Linked DNA regions of Homo sapiens: region 2 is linked to region 1. The links come from fine-mapping of genetic effects on gene expression. A gene starts in region 1. The other region holds a variant in brackets. All regions are shown on one strand. Distances are from middle to middle.

Region 1 (8,337 bases):
TTAACCCTGGCTGAAGTTCTACCTCCACTTAAGAGCCCCTTAGTCAGATAACTGAAGCCTTAGCCCCTTGTATTCCCCACTCTGTAACTGTGCTTCTATGCACTCCTAGTGTCTGCTCTCTAATCCTGCTCTACAAGAAATGACATCATTCTCCAATACTCCTTCTTTAGTGGGCATCGCTTTATGCTTGAAAGCATTTTATCCCAATAGCAGAATTCAATGTTCTTTGTTAAAAGAATTACAAGTATGAACAAGTAAAAGGGAAGAAATTGTGAGGCATGCCACTCGTAAAAGAAGCCTTCTCTAACCTGATTTGAACTTCGGCATTGGACTTTCGGAACAATCAGGAAGGATATTCTGCACAAAAGCCACACATAAATTTTCCCTGTTTTTTCTAAGGCAAACAACTCTAACAGTCCAGATCACATTTCTATTAGGCTCAGATATGCCTCAAAAAGCCTGGCAGAACAGCACTCCAGGCAGCACCTCCCAATCAATCATGTGGGCAAGCACGACACGCCCCTCTGTGTTCCCGCCCATCTAGGGTCCTATCCCTTCTGAAGATAGTTTGGCAGCTGGGGTCACCAATTGCCAGGTGCCTGGATCAGGAGTCTGACGGACAAGAGCAGCATGCCTTACTGTTTCCAGGAACTGAGGCCATGAGAGCCTCCCTCTTCCATTGTTACCTTTGTACAGATCAGGCACACCCTCCACTCCCTAATCCTAACCTGCTTGGATGCACACTTGATCTTTGGTACATCTTCCTTTAATTTCATGTTAATGATTTCCCTTACTACAACTCTTTTTGTAAGGGCTGTATTTCTATGCTTTTTACCTCCATTGACAAAGCTTCTGAAAGTACAGTATGCCATTGGAATTAATTTTCTTCATTAACAGAAATGTTCATTGAGAAATCTGTAATCACAATATTCTGAAAATCTGTTCCTAGTATGTTCTCTGCAAGTCACTACTTTCTTCTCAGTATCTCAATGTCCTTTTGTGTAGCTCATATCCATCTTTCCTGTGATTACGTCTTCCTAATTCTTTCTTCTCTCATTTTCTGTTCCTCCTTCAAAGAAGTCCCCAAGCCCTCCCGTGGACCCAGCCCTGTGGAGCACTGGGACACAGAGTCTTGACCTGGCCTTGGAGAACTCACAGGCCAAGAGATGAGCTATGTATCCTATGAGCACAAGTTTAATGTGGTGCTGATGTCCTATGTGTCACAGGGAACATGAAGAGGGTGCAATTCTTTTTGCTTGGATGAGAAGATGCGGCAGCAAGGGCAGGCCCAGGGGTCATCATAGCATAGGTGGCATCTGAGCTGTGATTTAATTTAGTAGATGTTTGAAAGAGAAGCACAGGACATGAAGTAAAACAATTTACAGAGGAAGTAGCATGAGGTATGAGAGTCTGAGATGAGACACAACAAATAGCCCCATGTGAATGGAGCAAAGGGAAAGATGGCTAATGACAGGTCAGCAAAGCATCCTAAAGCCTCATTCTGCTAACCTTGACAATCCACTGGATGTGTTCACCATTAGGAAAATATAAAGCTTAAAAAATATTATAAAGTAGTAACATGTATATTCTATTATACTTTACAAAATATTTTCACATATATTATTTTATTCCCTCACTTTGTTTTGAGGATTCAAGGTATTGATATATGTAAGTTGCTTGTAGTGTGCCACATGGTGACACTACAAAAAAGATATTTCCATGTCCTAATCCCCAAAACCTGTGAATCTTACTTTATTGGGAAAAGGGGTCTTTGCACACGCAATTAAAGATTTCGAGATTAGGAAATCATCCTGGATTATCCTCGTGTACCCTAAATGCAATTACAAGTGTGCTTATAAGACAGAGACAGAGACCTGGAGTAATGAGGCCACAAGCTAGCATTACAGGATCTCTGGGGTGTTGATTTTTCTGGCTGGAAAACTCTGTGGCTGCAGTGCCTTTGCCAGAGTTTTTGTCCCGCATTGAGGTACACAGACAAGTGAAGAGTGAAGAAGAGTTTTAGTGTTAGAACAGCTCGGAGGAGTGGGTAGCTTCTCTCTGTAGGCAGGTCATCCGGTCAAGTGTTCAGCTGTCAGTAGAGAGGAGGCCCTAGGCAGCGTAGCTCCTCTCCATAGGCAAGTCATTCAGAGATCTCTGCAGGTCTCTGAAGCTCTCAGCAGAGAGCGTAGCTCCTGTCTGTCGGCAGTCGAGAGGGTACTCCTTCCTTTCTGCAGCTAGTTGCCCCATCATCTCCAGCTATCAGCAGAGAGCATACTCCTCTACAGCGGGGGGTTCCCTTGTCTCTCCCTGCCCTCTTCATTCTCTGGCTGCTGTCCTCTTCCCTGCTCTGGCTGAGCCCAGGGTTTTTATGGACTTCAGAGGGAAGGAAGTGCATGCTGATTGGTCCATGGGTGGCCATGCGCAGGCTGGAGGAGGCAGCATGAGTCCCCACTCAGATTCCTGACTGGCAGCCTGGTCCCCAGACTTCAGGCCCTCCCTGGTCAGAGGGTGGGGCCTTACTGGGGACCCCAGCCCCTTCCACCCAGGACTCTGTCTGCCTCCTGCTGCCATTCACAGCCCTGGGGCTTGGTCCCAACCCCACTCTGAGATCAGAGCCAGTGGAGAGAGGCCAGGCAGTGGGAGCAGATACCCTTTAGCCTGCAGGGATGTGGGTGGGGTATTGCCTGGCAGTGGGATCAGATACCCCTGAGCCTGCAGGGATGGATGGGTGAAGGGTGTCCTTCCTGGGGAGTCCAAGGGTGCAGGCTGCAGAGATGCCCAGGTCCTGTGCCTGGGAGGGCAGCTGCAGCTGCACCAGGGAGCTCTTGCCCCACCAACTTGGAAGAGGCAAAGCTCCCACTTGTCCCTGGCTCCTGCCTGCTTCATGGAGTGAAAGGCCCAGGTCTGCAGCCGTGGGTTCCACAGGGAGGCTCAGAGGCACAGGGAGGCTCAGACCCACAGCCGCAGTTTGGGTGGCTGTAGCCTCGCCCAGGACTGCAGGGCTCCTGCTTGCTCCATAGAGCAGGAGGCCTGGGTCTGTAGCTGCAGTTTGGGCGGCTGTAGCGGCACAGGGAGCTCCCATCCCAACTCAGAAGGGGCAGCTCCCACGGGCTCCATGGAGTGTTGCAGCCCCAGCTGTGCTTCCCTGCTGCAGCCAGCATGATGGCAGCAGCCACTGCCATCACTAGCAGTGCCGATGGCTACCTGAAGCTGGAAGACGTAAGGACCACTTCTCCCCTAGGGCCTGTAGAGGGAGTGCAGACTTGTCCAGACCTTGATTTCAGGCTCTCGACCTTCAGAGCTGTGAGCAAATACATTTTTGTTGTTTGAATCCACCAGTCTGTGGGAACACATAGCAGCCACAGGAAACTAATACAACACCTGAGAGCCCCATCTGTAGTAATTATTCAATAACAGTTAGTCATCAGTCACCATCAACCTCATCCTATTTCGGACCAAACCTGGGCAGTGGGGACACATCAAGCCTACCATTTGGAGGGTGACTCTCCCAGCAGTGGGGAATGAAGTGGCACAGAGTAGCCATTAGAGGCCCAAGCCTGGAGGTAAAGGGGCGAATTCACCTGGGGGAAAAAGAGCTTTGGAGGCAGAATCAAAGAGACCTGGTGATCAAACTGCAGTCTCAAGGAAGCTGCCTTCCCTTCTAAATTGAGCAGCTAGGACCCTCTTAACTGAACTCTCAAAGTCTGGAAGGTTTGAGGAGGACAAGGAGTGTGATTTTGCACATGTCAAGTTGGAGGCCCTGCTGTGACACCCACATGGAACTGTCTGGTAGACAGTTAGATATTCTGGTCTGAAAAAGTAGGAAGAAAGTCCAAGTCAGAGATAAAGGTTAGAGAGTTGTTGGCACCTTTATGCAGCACTTGAAGCCCTGTGCAGGATATGGTCACAAAGAGAAGGTAAGCCTAGAAGGATCAATCCTGGGGGACTCCAACAGTTCCCAGACAAGAAGGGGATGAAATGGGGAGACAGTGGGAAAACAGGGTGGTTAGAAAGGGAAGAGAAGCATCCAAAGGGGTGCTGTCGGGATGCTAGGAGGGGATCCTCCCTCCTCTGTCTCTCCTGTTTGCCTTCCCATCATATAGAAACTGAGTGTATTAGATATTTTCTGCACTAATTAAGTATTTTCATTTTCCATTCTTAATTTACAACGGAATGAATTGGAATGAAAATATGCATTTCATTCACTCTTTTGGGAGCACAATTCTAGGGAATTTGTACTTGAACAATCCTTCACTGCTCCATAGCCACTGTGGAATCACAGTTACCCAACTATACAGCAGCAATGGCCAATTATTGCCACAAGAGACTATGATGGAGCTGACTACACGGTAATCATGCCACTAGCGTCACAGCTAGAGTGGTTCTCCCTCCACAGACCCAAAAGGCTGAACTGGTGAACCTGCTGCATCTGTGGGCAGAATTAGGATGAAAAGCACTACCTCTGTGAAATACAAAATCTCTGTGGAAGAAAAATCAATTCAGGTTAGAGGCGGCAGCTGAAGGCCATGGCTCCCAGCCTGGTGCGACAGCCCAGGGAGGGCGTCTGCCTCTGCAGACACAGCTGGGACTCCATTCAGCAGCCAACCCTTCCCCCACTTTCCTTGCTGTTTCCAAGATCCTATATGGGGATCGGGACTCAGGCAGGACCTGTTCTCTTCAGAGCTTCCAGGACTTCTCTTTCTTCTTTGCCTTTGGCCCTGTTTTCCTTGGAAAATCACCAGTTCTTCCTTTTTTCCTGTCCCCTCTTAGCCAGGCACTTCCTCGAGTGTTTAAAAACCCTGCGCGTTTTAGGGAGCGGGGATTTGGCAAAGGTTATGCGAAGGACTGAAAAGGGGCAGCGTCATGAAGGCCCTGTCATTCTCCCTGACTCCCCGTCTTTTCCTCAGTTGAGCATACTCCTAAGAGCGATGCCACACCCTTAAATACTAAGGCCCCTTTTTCTCAACAGGACCCTTTCCCCGGGAAAGACCCCAGCCCCGCCCCGCAGACCGGCAGAGTCTGCTGTCTTACTTGGCTGGAGGTTGTGGTGGCAGAGAGAGGGATCCGGAGCCCTGGGCCCAGGCTGTTCCATTCTGCCCCAGGAGGCGGCCGCGGGGCCCTGGCTCCAGCTATCTCAGCGCTTGCGGGAGCCGCGGGCTGCTTTGTGACGCGTCGCCATGGAGACAAGGATCGGGTTCCAGGGAGTTCTGCCCCTGCCAAGGGGTGCTGGCCACGCAGGAGGCTTAACCTGGCCGGCGCGGGAATGGGGTGCAGAGAGCAAAGAAATGTGGCTTTGATCTTATGGATGCCTTACTTTTACATTATTTGTACAGTTCTTGCAGTGAGCTTTCCGGACCACTGTCTTGTATGTTTCCTAAGAAAAGCAAAAAGGGAAGAGATTGAAGAGAAAGTAGATTTTCAACTACAAACTTTCATCCATTTGCTTTCAGCTTAAGCAAATGTGCGCAAAGTTGTCATGGATTTTTGCAGTCAATAAAAACCAAGCAAGAAGACTGAATCCCAAGTCATCTGGTATAAATGGAAGCAGTTTCTGTGATAGTTCCACGCGGTCAGAAGGGTCATCCTGGCTTAGGAGAGGGGCAGAAGAGGAAATGCACGCGTGGAAACAGGAGTGGGCAGGGAGGATGTGACACTGTCCTCCTCACCAGGCCACGTTCCTGGCACCAACCATAGTGTTTGTGAGGGTCAATTTAATTGTTCTTGTGCTCTCATAGAGGAAGCTGTGTCTTTCATCCCCTTGTAAGAGTTTTCACTGATGAAGGGGGTCTTTTATCTTCATATCTTGGGAACTACTGAAACTGTTTCAAAGAGTCAAAGACACCAATAACTAACAGAAATTCTTGTTTTCAGGGGCAGATAAGAAAAGAAACAATTTGCTGAAACTCCCTCTGCTTATAACAAAACTGACTGAAATCAGCCGGAATCAATATGGCCAAATGCAGTTTGCGCACAGCAAGCTTGCTGATGTCACAGCCTGAATTTCTACTGCATGTTTCATACCAACTCCCTCCAAATTTGCACATGGGACCCACCAGGAAGCATGAAGAGAGAGCCATGCATGCCTGAAGACTTCCCAGATGTTCCCTTTGCTTCCACCAATCACCTGCTAACCCCAGGATCCAACCCTAAACCTTTTGTAATAAAATTACTGCCCTAAAGCCAGTACAAGACAGATTTGAACTGGACTTTTGTTTCCTCAGAAGTTAACTTGCAATGTGAAGCTTTCCTTTTCTCAAAAACTTGGTGTCATAGTGTTGGCTTCTAGTGCAGTGAGCCCCTTTTGCTGGATAACCTTACCTGGTAATTTGACATACTAGGTGGTTAGTAACTACTGACTGTCTCCAGGTTACAACACAGTTATTACCCACTTGGGTGAAAAGAGAAGACAGGAAATACATTTTGGAGTTGGCTGGCAACCTGTTTACAAAGCAATTTACAACAGTTCCTTATTCTTAAGGGGCTATTCTAATACAAGACCTCAGAGAAACAGTGCAGTGTGACAAAGGAGGAATTTATCAAAGGAGACAGAAAAAGCATCAAGGTAAGGATCCCAAATATATGTGCAAGGAATGTCTTTAAAATGAAGAGCTAAACTAGAATTTCCTGAAGGTAGAGTTCTATCCATATAATGGAATGAATATAACACATTATAAACTCTCATGTTTTGAAGCAATGGAGGGTGGAACACATTAGAAGGCATAGATGTTATTAAAAGGAATGAGTCTAAATTAGGATTTAGTAGTGGCATCTAAATTTAAAAAGTAGCACCCAATAACAGATTACTGTCTGGAAATGGTAGAGCTAATTAGCATAGCATAATTTAAGAGAAATATATGTTTAAAATAGAGCAGCAAGTATATAGAATTTTGAAAGTGAATTCTTATTAATATCTTACAATTTGTCTCATTTTAGGCAAGCTGTGAAATGGTGCGGTAGGAACCAAATAGAGAGCCAAAGGATCTTTCTGTCACTGCAGGCCCTTAGGGGTAAGCAAATCCTTCCCTGATCCCTGGTCTCCTTATCTGTAAATGAGAATACCAGCACCCACCTCACTGTGCTGTAAACATGATGAGTTCTAACAATAATTTATAAATTGTAAAATCACACAAATCTAAGATATTGCTCTTGTTGCTATTCTGATCTTCATTCCTTTTATAGTCTTTCTACTTCAAAGTGTATTTTTGCGTGGGTCCATTTTATGGCTAGCGGTATAGCACTATTCCTGCCTTTGAATTCTGGTTGCCTGAGGCAACCCTTCTAAATGATTAAGTAGAGTATTTCCCCCCTGCTTTCTTCTCTCCCTCAACAAATACTGACTGTGCACTGAATATGAGCTGTATGATGGCATCGGGGCAACACCCTGATTATTATAGTGAACAACTTCCTAGAAAAGGAGGTGCCTGAGCTGGGTCCTCAAGGATGCTTGGAGTCAACCAGGTGAATAGGGGGAGGTGACAGGTGACACAAAGTAACGCAAGGGCCCAGAGGCATGGAACACTGTGTGTAGTCCCAAGACCTTTAGTAGTTTAATATTGCCATATTGTAAAGTGTGTCAGGGGAAACTGAGAGCCGGCTGGGGTGGAAGGCCCTGCAGGCCATCCTGAGAAGCTTGGACTTCACCTGAGCATGCTTGGGTTAAACAATGCAGTGCAGGGGCCAGGTTGGAAGTTTAAGTAAATCCTGGCCTCTCATTCCAGAAGGAGGAGAGGCAAAATTCCACAACATTCTGCCAGAGTAAGTTAATCATTCAGAAATTAAAGCATCTAGGTTACTAATTTAGGTTACTGATATCTCTTTAGCAGAGTTTCAAATTGATCCAAAACAATTGAGAATAGTTGTATTGAATGGGTTAAATGTTAATTGGTTGTTTTCAGTTGAAGTGATTACAGCCAAGCGAGGTGGCTCATGCTTGTAATCCCAATACTTTGGGAGTCCAAGGCAAGAGGATCCTTTGAGCCTAGAAGTTTGAGACAAGCCTGGACAACATAGGGAGACCCCGTTTCTACAAAAAATGAAAAAATTAGGCAAGGTGATGCATATGTGTAGTCCCAGCTACTTGGGAAGCTGAGGTGGGAGGATCAATTAAGCCCATGAGTTTGAGGCTGCAGTGAGCTGTAGTGGTGCCACTGCACTCCAGCCTGGGTGACAAGAGAAAAACCCCATCTCCAAAAACAAAAAACAAAAAATTTGTGACAATTTATTTTTGCATGCACACACGCACCTGCGCATGCAGGTCCGTGCATGTGCGCGCACACACACACAAACACACACATAGAGAACATGATGTGAAGTAGTAAAGACTGGGATGGGTGGTAA
Region 2 (8,337 bases), 23 kb before region 1:
ACTCCTGCTCTCAGAATGCCAGCAGTCAGAATTACCTCTCTGGAGAGACTGATCCACAAATAATGGCATTTAGGGATTTCCCCCAAGAAAGATAGCTCATCCTCTAATCACCTAAGTCAAGTACCAGCTAACAAGTCCCTTCTTTGTACACAGTTTTTAATTATATTTGATACCTCCTTTGTAGGTTTTTGAGCCTTGGAGTTTAATATTTTGTGTGCACCCACTTTAAGAAAAAGAAGAGTCCACAAAAGTGAAACTTGAGTTTTATTAGCTTTATAATGAATCGGCCTCTGCTCCCTTGCAAATATGGACAATCAAATTTTCATTAGACCATTAAGACACTCAGAGAAAAATGGAAACAATGCAAGAAACAGATGAAAATGCTGAAAGTTAATTATATCATAAATATCTTAAAATTCATGAGAATTACTGCATTATAAAATAAGAGCAGAATGCTGTTTTTAAAAAATAATTGGAGGGAGGAAGAAAGAGAGCTTAGAAATTAAAAATATGAGACCTGTAATAAAATTTAATGAAGAGCTAGATTAAAAAGTAAAGAAGTTTTCAGCCAGGCATGGTGGCTCATATCTGTAATCCTAGCACTTTGGGAGGCTGAGGTGGGTGGATTGCCTGACCTCAGGAGTTCAAGACCAGCCTGGGCAACATGGTGAAATCCTGACTCTACTAAAAATACAAACAAATTAGCCGGACGTGGTGGTGCATGCCTGCAGTCTCAGCTACTCAGGAGGCTAAGGCATGAGAATTGCTTGAATCTGGGAGGCAGAGGCTGCAGTGAGCCAAGATCACACAACTGCACTCCAGCCTGGTGGAGATTCTGTCTCCATGAAAAACAAACAAACAGACAAAACAAAAAAGGTATAGAAGTTTTCAAATAAACAGAACAAAAATACAAAGAGAAAGAAGCTAGGAGAGAAAAGGTAAGATAATTTAAGGCTCGATCCAACTATCCAGTAGCTTCCTAAGAAAGGGTGTGTTGGAGGAACTTTTGAAAGTATATTCTTGTCAATCTGGAAATGTCTTTTTTTCTTCATTAGACTTGCTTGATAGTTTGGCTGGATATAGAATTTTAGGTTGGAAATCACTTCCCTTCAACACATTTTTCCAAATGTCTTCTAGCATCCAGGATTTCTATGTAGAAGACAGATGACATTTTAATTTCTGATCTTTTTTATGTCAACCCCCTGGAAACACTTAAGATCTCTTTATTCCTGACATTCTGAAATTCCACACTTACATGCATTAGTGACAGTCTTTTGTCATTCGTTATGTCAGGCATTCAGGGGCCCTTTCAATCTAGAAACTCTGAGAATTTTTTCCTGCATTACTCCTTTAATATTTTTCTCTCCTCTCTTTTCTCTGTTCTATTCTGTCATTGTGTTTGGAAAAAATTTTGGTAAGTGTACAACAAAGTATGGAAAAAAATAGTGACAGGCATGTAGAAAAGTAAACACGTAGAGAAAAACAATTAATTCTGGTAAAAATAAGAGAAAACAACAAGCAAAGGAAATAATGAAATACAACTTGGCTCAGCAGCAAACATTTACGTACTCATGTAATCACAGTATGTCATATCATAATATATACACTAGCAATTGAATTTAACAAGAAATCTGTAATATAATTATATTGACATGATGGATGGAGGGCCAGTGAGACAGAGTTATAGGATAGCCAAATCCTCAGCTTCCAAAACAGAAGTCAATAACGTCTAAAATTCATGAATGAAGAGGAGCAGTAGAAGCAAATTATTTAAAAATCACATAAGAAGAAATAGTTAACCAGATTGAAATTGACTGCCAATGAGGAATAAGAGTAGGGATGGGGCGGGGTAGGTCAAGGAACTACTGTTGTTTCTTTATATGCCTGTAAGTAATCATTTAAGTATATGCATACATTTGTTTAATAAAAGTAAATTTTAATGTTTAAAAACTGTAAACAAGAAGTTAGGAATTCAGAATACCATGTATAAACTGACTCTTGAAGGAATTTTAGCTGGGAAGGAGGTAGTTCTAATAAGAGAAGCCAGACTGCCTGGGTTCAAATCCTAGACACCACCAGTCCTGAGCTGGGCAACCCTGGGCATGTTGCTTAACCACACTGAGTTTTAGATCCCCCTCTTTGATTGGCGGTAATAACTTCACAGGTTGTGAAAATTAACTGTGTTAATTTATGAAAAGCTAAGGGCTTAGTAAACATTGGCTGTTTATGAAGGGAAGCAGAGAAATGAACAGTAGCTAAAAGAAGAGATGGGGTTGAGGGAAAGCTCTGTTTTTGTTTTCATCTGGAACATGCTAGACGGGATATACTACAGTCAATGTGCATGCCGGTGGGGTGGGATTAATACTTTAGAGATGGAGGGATGATGTTGGAGAAAAGGCCAGAGAACTGGAAAGATAAAGTTCTTGTTCAGGGGACAGGGAGACAGATCCACAGCTCACAGGGATTGATGGTTCTGTTGGGGCAGGAAAAGGGATGTAGGATGAAGATGGAGACACCCAGACCTTGAGAGATGTGTCATTCTCCTGTCCTCGGGTGAACAGGGGCCCTCAGCACTCCCTGGCTTGTGTTCAGAGCCCACAGGGCAGCCAGCCTTCCTCAGCAGTCACTGGGTGTCATTATTTTGTCACCAAAAAGCAGGAGAACACCAATACTCCAACTGCCATTGTGTCACAGGGCTTAGAGCCATGCACCAGCGTGTGTGGCTTTCTCAGTAACTTAGGAAAAGATTTCCGTCTGTGCGTCTAAAAATATAATCAATTTTCATGAATTCTCAATAAAGTAAATTTCCTGCTGATAAGCAAGACCAAAATTGCATTGAATCACCAAATATGTCATTTCTGGAAAATGTGTTGGTATAGATGGAACTCATTTTTGACCCCCTGAGACATGGAAGCTATGATGTCATCTCTACTTACCCTACAAAAAAACAGTCAAAGGTGTTCCCAGCCACAGAGCCCTAAGGGCAGAGCCAGGTGAAGCATGAGAGAATCTAGATTCTCACAGGGGAATCTGCATAGCAGAGTTCCCATCCCAGGACACATGTGCTCTTCCAGGAAGCAGGATGAATAGTGTGCTGGACTTTTCATCTCTAACAAAGGAGAGAATAAAATGGCCCTCACTTCATCCTCTCATGGTTTCCTACTTACCTACAGAAGACACCAGCATCCCATCCACAAGGAACTCCAAGGCAGACTCCTATTACTCCCGTATCTCTGACATCTGTCAGTCACTCATCCCTATCATTCATTTATTTGTTCAACCAATATTTATTTTCATCACCTGTGATAAGCCAGGCACTGGGGTGGGTGCTGGTGAGACAATGTGAGCCAAAAGCCACAGCCCCTACCCTGGAAGGGGCTTATTGCTGACTGAAGTGCCCATGCCACCACCTTGCAGATCCTGCCTCCATCCGCACTGCCACAGCCCTGTGTCAAGCCACCTCACTCCTCTCTGCGCTCCCCTAACAGCCTCCTCCTGTCCACCTTCTTCCTGAAGGGCCATCTCCATTCTTCACTCTGCAGCCAGTGTGAGGCTTCTAAAAGTCGACATCTGAATTGTGTCACTACCTTAATAAAAACCTCTTAATTGCTTCTGGGATGAACTCCAAACTCTTTAGTATGCCCTGTAATGCCCTTCCAGACTGGGTGTTCTCTGCCCACGTTGATCTCCTCCCTCAACCCTCCCTTTGCCCTTGATGCTCTACTCTTGCTGAAGTTCTTTTAGTTCCTGAAATGTTCCTGCAGGTCTTCAATCCTGTAACAACACTCTCCCCTACCTCTTTGCCTGGCTAATTCCTCTTCATCCTTTGGGCCAGGCAGGGAAGCCTTTCCTGACCCCCTATCCCACACTAAGCTGGATGTCTTCCTGTATGCCCACAGCAACCTGCATTTCCCACAAGGTGCACCTTTTTATACTTGATGGTTTTTATTTGCAAAGTCGCCTGTCTCCATGCCTAGACTTCAAGTTCCTTGAAGGAGAAGAACACACGCATGCTGCCGACCACTGCAACTCCAGGGCCTACCACATGACCCAGGAAAAAAAGAAAAACAAAAGTGTTTACCTTTTGATCTGTCCACAAAGTCTCTCTTAGTAAGGGAAATAAACTGATTTGATAGTGCCTTGTTAACTTCTTTCATTGAAGCCGGGATTTTCCAAGGGAGGCAGTTCTTTAGTGTCCCCGTTTGTTGACAGTGAGGTAGTGTCCACAGGAAAATGTC[C/T]TATCAAAGCAAACATAATTTTCAAGAAAATCCATATGGGTTCACCCAATAGGATCAATAATCTGAGTGTCTGTGTGCACATATTCTTCAGAATCCTTTACAACCAGCTGCCACTGCAGGTGCATGGATGCTGGGAGCCCGTCAACAGGAGACATTGGTTGACCCAGTCGAAACGCGGGCTCTGTACATTTCTTTGACTTTTCACATTGAAAATGAGAAAATGAGATTGAAAACTTCAAAGAGTTGTGCTTCCAACCAGAAGTCTCCTACAGATAAGACTAAGGGAAGAAATAACCCATGTTAATTCTAGTTCTGGCCATTCCCAAGGAGCACAGGCAGTAGCTGCTTTCCCCTTGGGAGCCCCTGAGGAAAACTCTGCCTTACATGCAGAGGCCTCAGCAACTTGCTGAAGGACAGGAATGGCCAGCACTCTCTTGTCACCTCCAAATGTCCAACAATGATAGACTGGATTAAGAAAATGTGGCACATATACACCATGGAATACTATGCAGCCATAAAAAATGATGAGTTCATGTCCTTTGTAGGGACATGGATGAAGCTGGAAACCATCATTCTCAGCAAACTATTGCAAGGACAAAAAACCAAACACCGCATGTTCTCACTCATAGGTGGGAATTGAACAATGAGAACACATGGACACAGGAAGGGGAACATCACACACCGGGGCCTGTTGTGGGGTGGGGGGAGGGGGGAGGGATAGCATTAGGATATATACCTAATGCTAAATGACTAGTTAATGGGTGCAGCACACCAACATGGCACATGTATACATATGTAACAAACTTGCACGTTGTGCACATGTACCCTAAAACTTAAAGTATAATAATAATAAAATTAAAAAAGAGAGATTTTAGGATGATAAAACTTGAAATCTTCACCCCCTCTTGCCATCGTCCCTCTTTCCCATGATCTTGCTTCCTATTTCCCTGAGAAAATTGAAGCCACCAGAAAATAACCTCCACAGCCCACCAACCGTGTCCCAGCCACCGCACCTGCACTCACACATGCTGTGACGGGAGGGGAGCCGCGCAGGTGCCCTCAGCAAGGCCCAGCCCCGCCTGCAGCACTAGATCCCTCTCTACTGAGTCTACTCCAGCAAATCGCTCCAACAGTCCTTACTTCTCTCTTGCAACTTGAATCTCTTCCTCTCTGCTGGATCATTGCCATCTGTATCAAAGAATGCGTTTATTTCTCCTATCTTAAAAAGAAAGCACTCTCTTCACTGTACTTCCCCTTCTAGTTACTAAGCTATTCCTCAGTTTCCCTTTGCACCAAAATTCTTCAAAATAGTTAGGTATACTCGCTGTCCCAAACTTGCCTTTTAAACCTCTTTTAATTTTCAAGTTCTCTCTTGATTCCCTTCTTTCCCTCACAATCTATCAACTGGAAAAACCAATACATAAAATTATGATTTATCTATTGAAGAAGCCATTTGCTGTGCAGAGGTCCCAAAGTCTGGATTTTGTTGATTGCGTATGCATTTGTTGTTTAACAAGTTCCTCTGTCCCCTGTATTTCCTGCAAATTGGCAGGTGTATCCAGAGACTCAAATTCACTAAACTAGAAGTCAAGCTTGTCCAACCTGTGGCCCCACCCAGGATGGCTTTGAATGTGGCCCAACACAAATTCATAAACTTATTTAAAACATTATGAGATATTTTTGCGATTTCATTTTTTAAAGCTCATCAGCTATCATTAGTGTTAGTGTATTTTATGTGTGGCCCAAAGCAATTCTTCTTCCACTGTGGCCCAGGGAAGCCAAAAGATTAGACACCCCTGAATAAATGGTGTTTCACAAGGCTGTAGGAGGCAGATAATACATCGTTGTTTTTCTTGTGTAACGTTAGCAGTTGTTGATATTCAATACCTAGAATAATAGGAGCTGCCATCTGGCATGTGAACACTCATTGGCTGAGAACACGCAGGACAGTCAGCCACACTAGCTCTCATTGGTTGAGAGCCTTCAATAGTACTTAGAGGAAGGGAAAATTATATGGTCGTGTGTTTGTGAATGTATAAATACAGTATAATATTGTATACATACAGTATAATATTGTAATCAACTCTTCTACATTAATTTTAAAATATAAAGGATGACCAAGCATAGTGTCTCACGGCTGTAATCCCAGGGCTTTGGAAGGCCAGGGTGAAAGGATTGCTTGAACCCAGGAGTTTGAGACCAGCCTGGGAAACAGAGTGAGATTCTATCTCTACAAAAAATAAAAAATTAGCTGGGCATGGTGGCATGCACCTGTACTTTAAGCTACTCTGGAGGGTGAGGTGGGAGCATCACTTGAGTTCAAGAGTTCGAGGCTGTAGTGACCTCTGATTGATTGTGCCACTGCACTTCACCCTGGGCCACAAAGCAAGATCTTGTCTGTAATATATCTAATTATACATAATAATACATATGTTAGAGACATATTTTTATATTATATATAAATTATATATTAAATATATAATTTAGATATATATATTTTTAGAGACAGGAGTTTTATGTGTATATCTCCAAGAGATATATACATACATATATGTGTGTGTGTGTGTGTGTGTGTGTGTGTGTGTGTGTGTGTGTATAGGTCTATAAATATATATATTTTTTTTCAGGGTTGAATACATTACAATGAATGGATATCACAAGGAACCAAATTTAATCAGCTATATGTATACATTCTAATGACTTCCAAGTCCATATGTCCAGCTCATCTCTCCCCCAAGAGCTCCAGACCTGTCTATTAAACTGCCTGTTGGACACATCTTCAACCAACATGTCTTCAACTGAAACTACATGTTCCCCCAATGCCCTTCTCCACCCAACCTGGTCCTCCACCATGTTCCAGCTGAGTAAACAGAATCTGCATACACCAGCTGTCCAAGTCAGAAGTTGAACATTATACTTTCCTCTTCCTTATCCTTTGCATCCTTTTAGTCATCAAATCCTGTTCATTCTACCACTTTATCATCTATTGAATGCATCAAGGTGGCTCCATCCCAGGTTGTCCCATCCCATGTGGCAGTCAAGCAAATGAAACCCTTTACTACAACAAAGCATTACCTTTTGTGATGGGAGAAGGGAATAGAAAGACAAGAAAACACACACGGAGAATCAGCTATTTCCACCCAGGGGAGAAGGAACTTAGAGATGGCTTTCTTTAATGTGAGTCTTGAAGAAATATAGGAGTTCCCTTCATGCACAGGATAAGGGCATTCTAGGTAGAGGCAACAGAATGATTTAAAAAATGGAGGTTTGAGAGCGTATGAAACACAAGGCTAAGCACAAGTACTTGTACATGGCTGTTCATAGCTGCACAATTCACAATAGCCAAAAGGTGGAAACAATCCAAAGATGCATTAATGGATGCACACACAGACAAACTGTGGTTTATCCGCGGAAGAGAATATTATTCAACTGTGACAAAGACTGGAAGTACTGATATTTGCTACACGGATGCTACATGGGTAGTCTTCATAATAGTGCTTTTCCTGTCTTCTTTCTAGTCAGATAATTTCTTAGATGATGAACCTTGAAAACATTATGCTAAGTGAAAAGAAGCCAGACACAAAAGGTCACCTATTATTGATTCCACATGTAAAATATCCACAAAAGGTAATCCACGGACATAGAAAGCAGACGGTGGGGAGTGGAGTCGGGGGTAATTGCTTAATGGGTATGAGGTCTCCTTCTAGGATGATGAAAATGGTTTGGAACAAAAATAAAGGTGATGGCTGTCCAACAGCATGTATGTACTAAATGCCAGTGAATTGTTCACTTTAAAAGGTTAATTTTATATTACGTAAATTTCACTTCAATTTTTAAAAAGTCCTTTTTTAAAAAAAACTCCAGGGGATAGAACACAAGAGGTTAGAAATAAATGTGAGAAGGTAGACAGGAAATAGTCTAAAAAGAACCATGTATCCTGTGACTGTAGAAGCTGAGAGATCTTTGTGACATATTTAAACTCTCATTCTTATGAGTTGTTGATACAGTACAGTATTAAATTCAACACATATGTAGATATTATCTTACTTCATTGAGATGAGATTTGTGGCTCTTGATTCCTCTTGAAGTCTCAGTTTTG

Direction of the effects. Positions count from the first base shown, and alleles are read on the strand shown. Sizes are in standard deviations (SD) of each study's normalised expression.
In carriers of allele T in region 2, the expression in testis of the gene that starts at base 5,152 in region 1 tends to be lower than with C alone (moderate effect, 0.43 SD a copy in GTEx).

What was found. PIP is the estimated chance that this variant, and not a neighbour inherited with it, causes the effect.
Region 2: its variant is the best candidate, but not a certain one, in a credible set for the expression of TEX26 in testis (GTEx, PIP 0.85).

What each region holds. Positions count from the first base shown.
Region 1 is chr13:30,929,471-30,937,807 of GRCh38, reverse strand. It overlaps TEX26 (testis expressed 26), which reads right to left and starts at 5,152. Exons shown (of 7, transcript NM_152325.3): 1 at 5,032-5,152. The coding sequence starts at 5,092. TEX26-AS1 (TEX26 antisense RNA 1) reads left to right here and starts at 5,200. Exons shown (of 4, transcript NR_038287.1): 1 at 5,200-6,562; 2 at 6,934-7,007.
Region 2 is chr13:30,952,774-30,961,110 of GRCh38, reverse strand. TEX26 (testis expressed 26) reads right to left here. Exons shown (of 7, transcript NM_152325.3): 3 at 8,286-8,337; 4 at 4,082-4,238. Among named protein-coding and RNA genes, the nearest start is that of TEX26-AS2, 21 kb to the left of the region's middle. The variant C/T (reference allele first, on the strand shown) is at 4,239.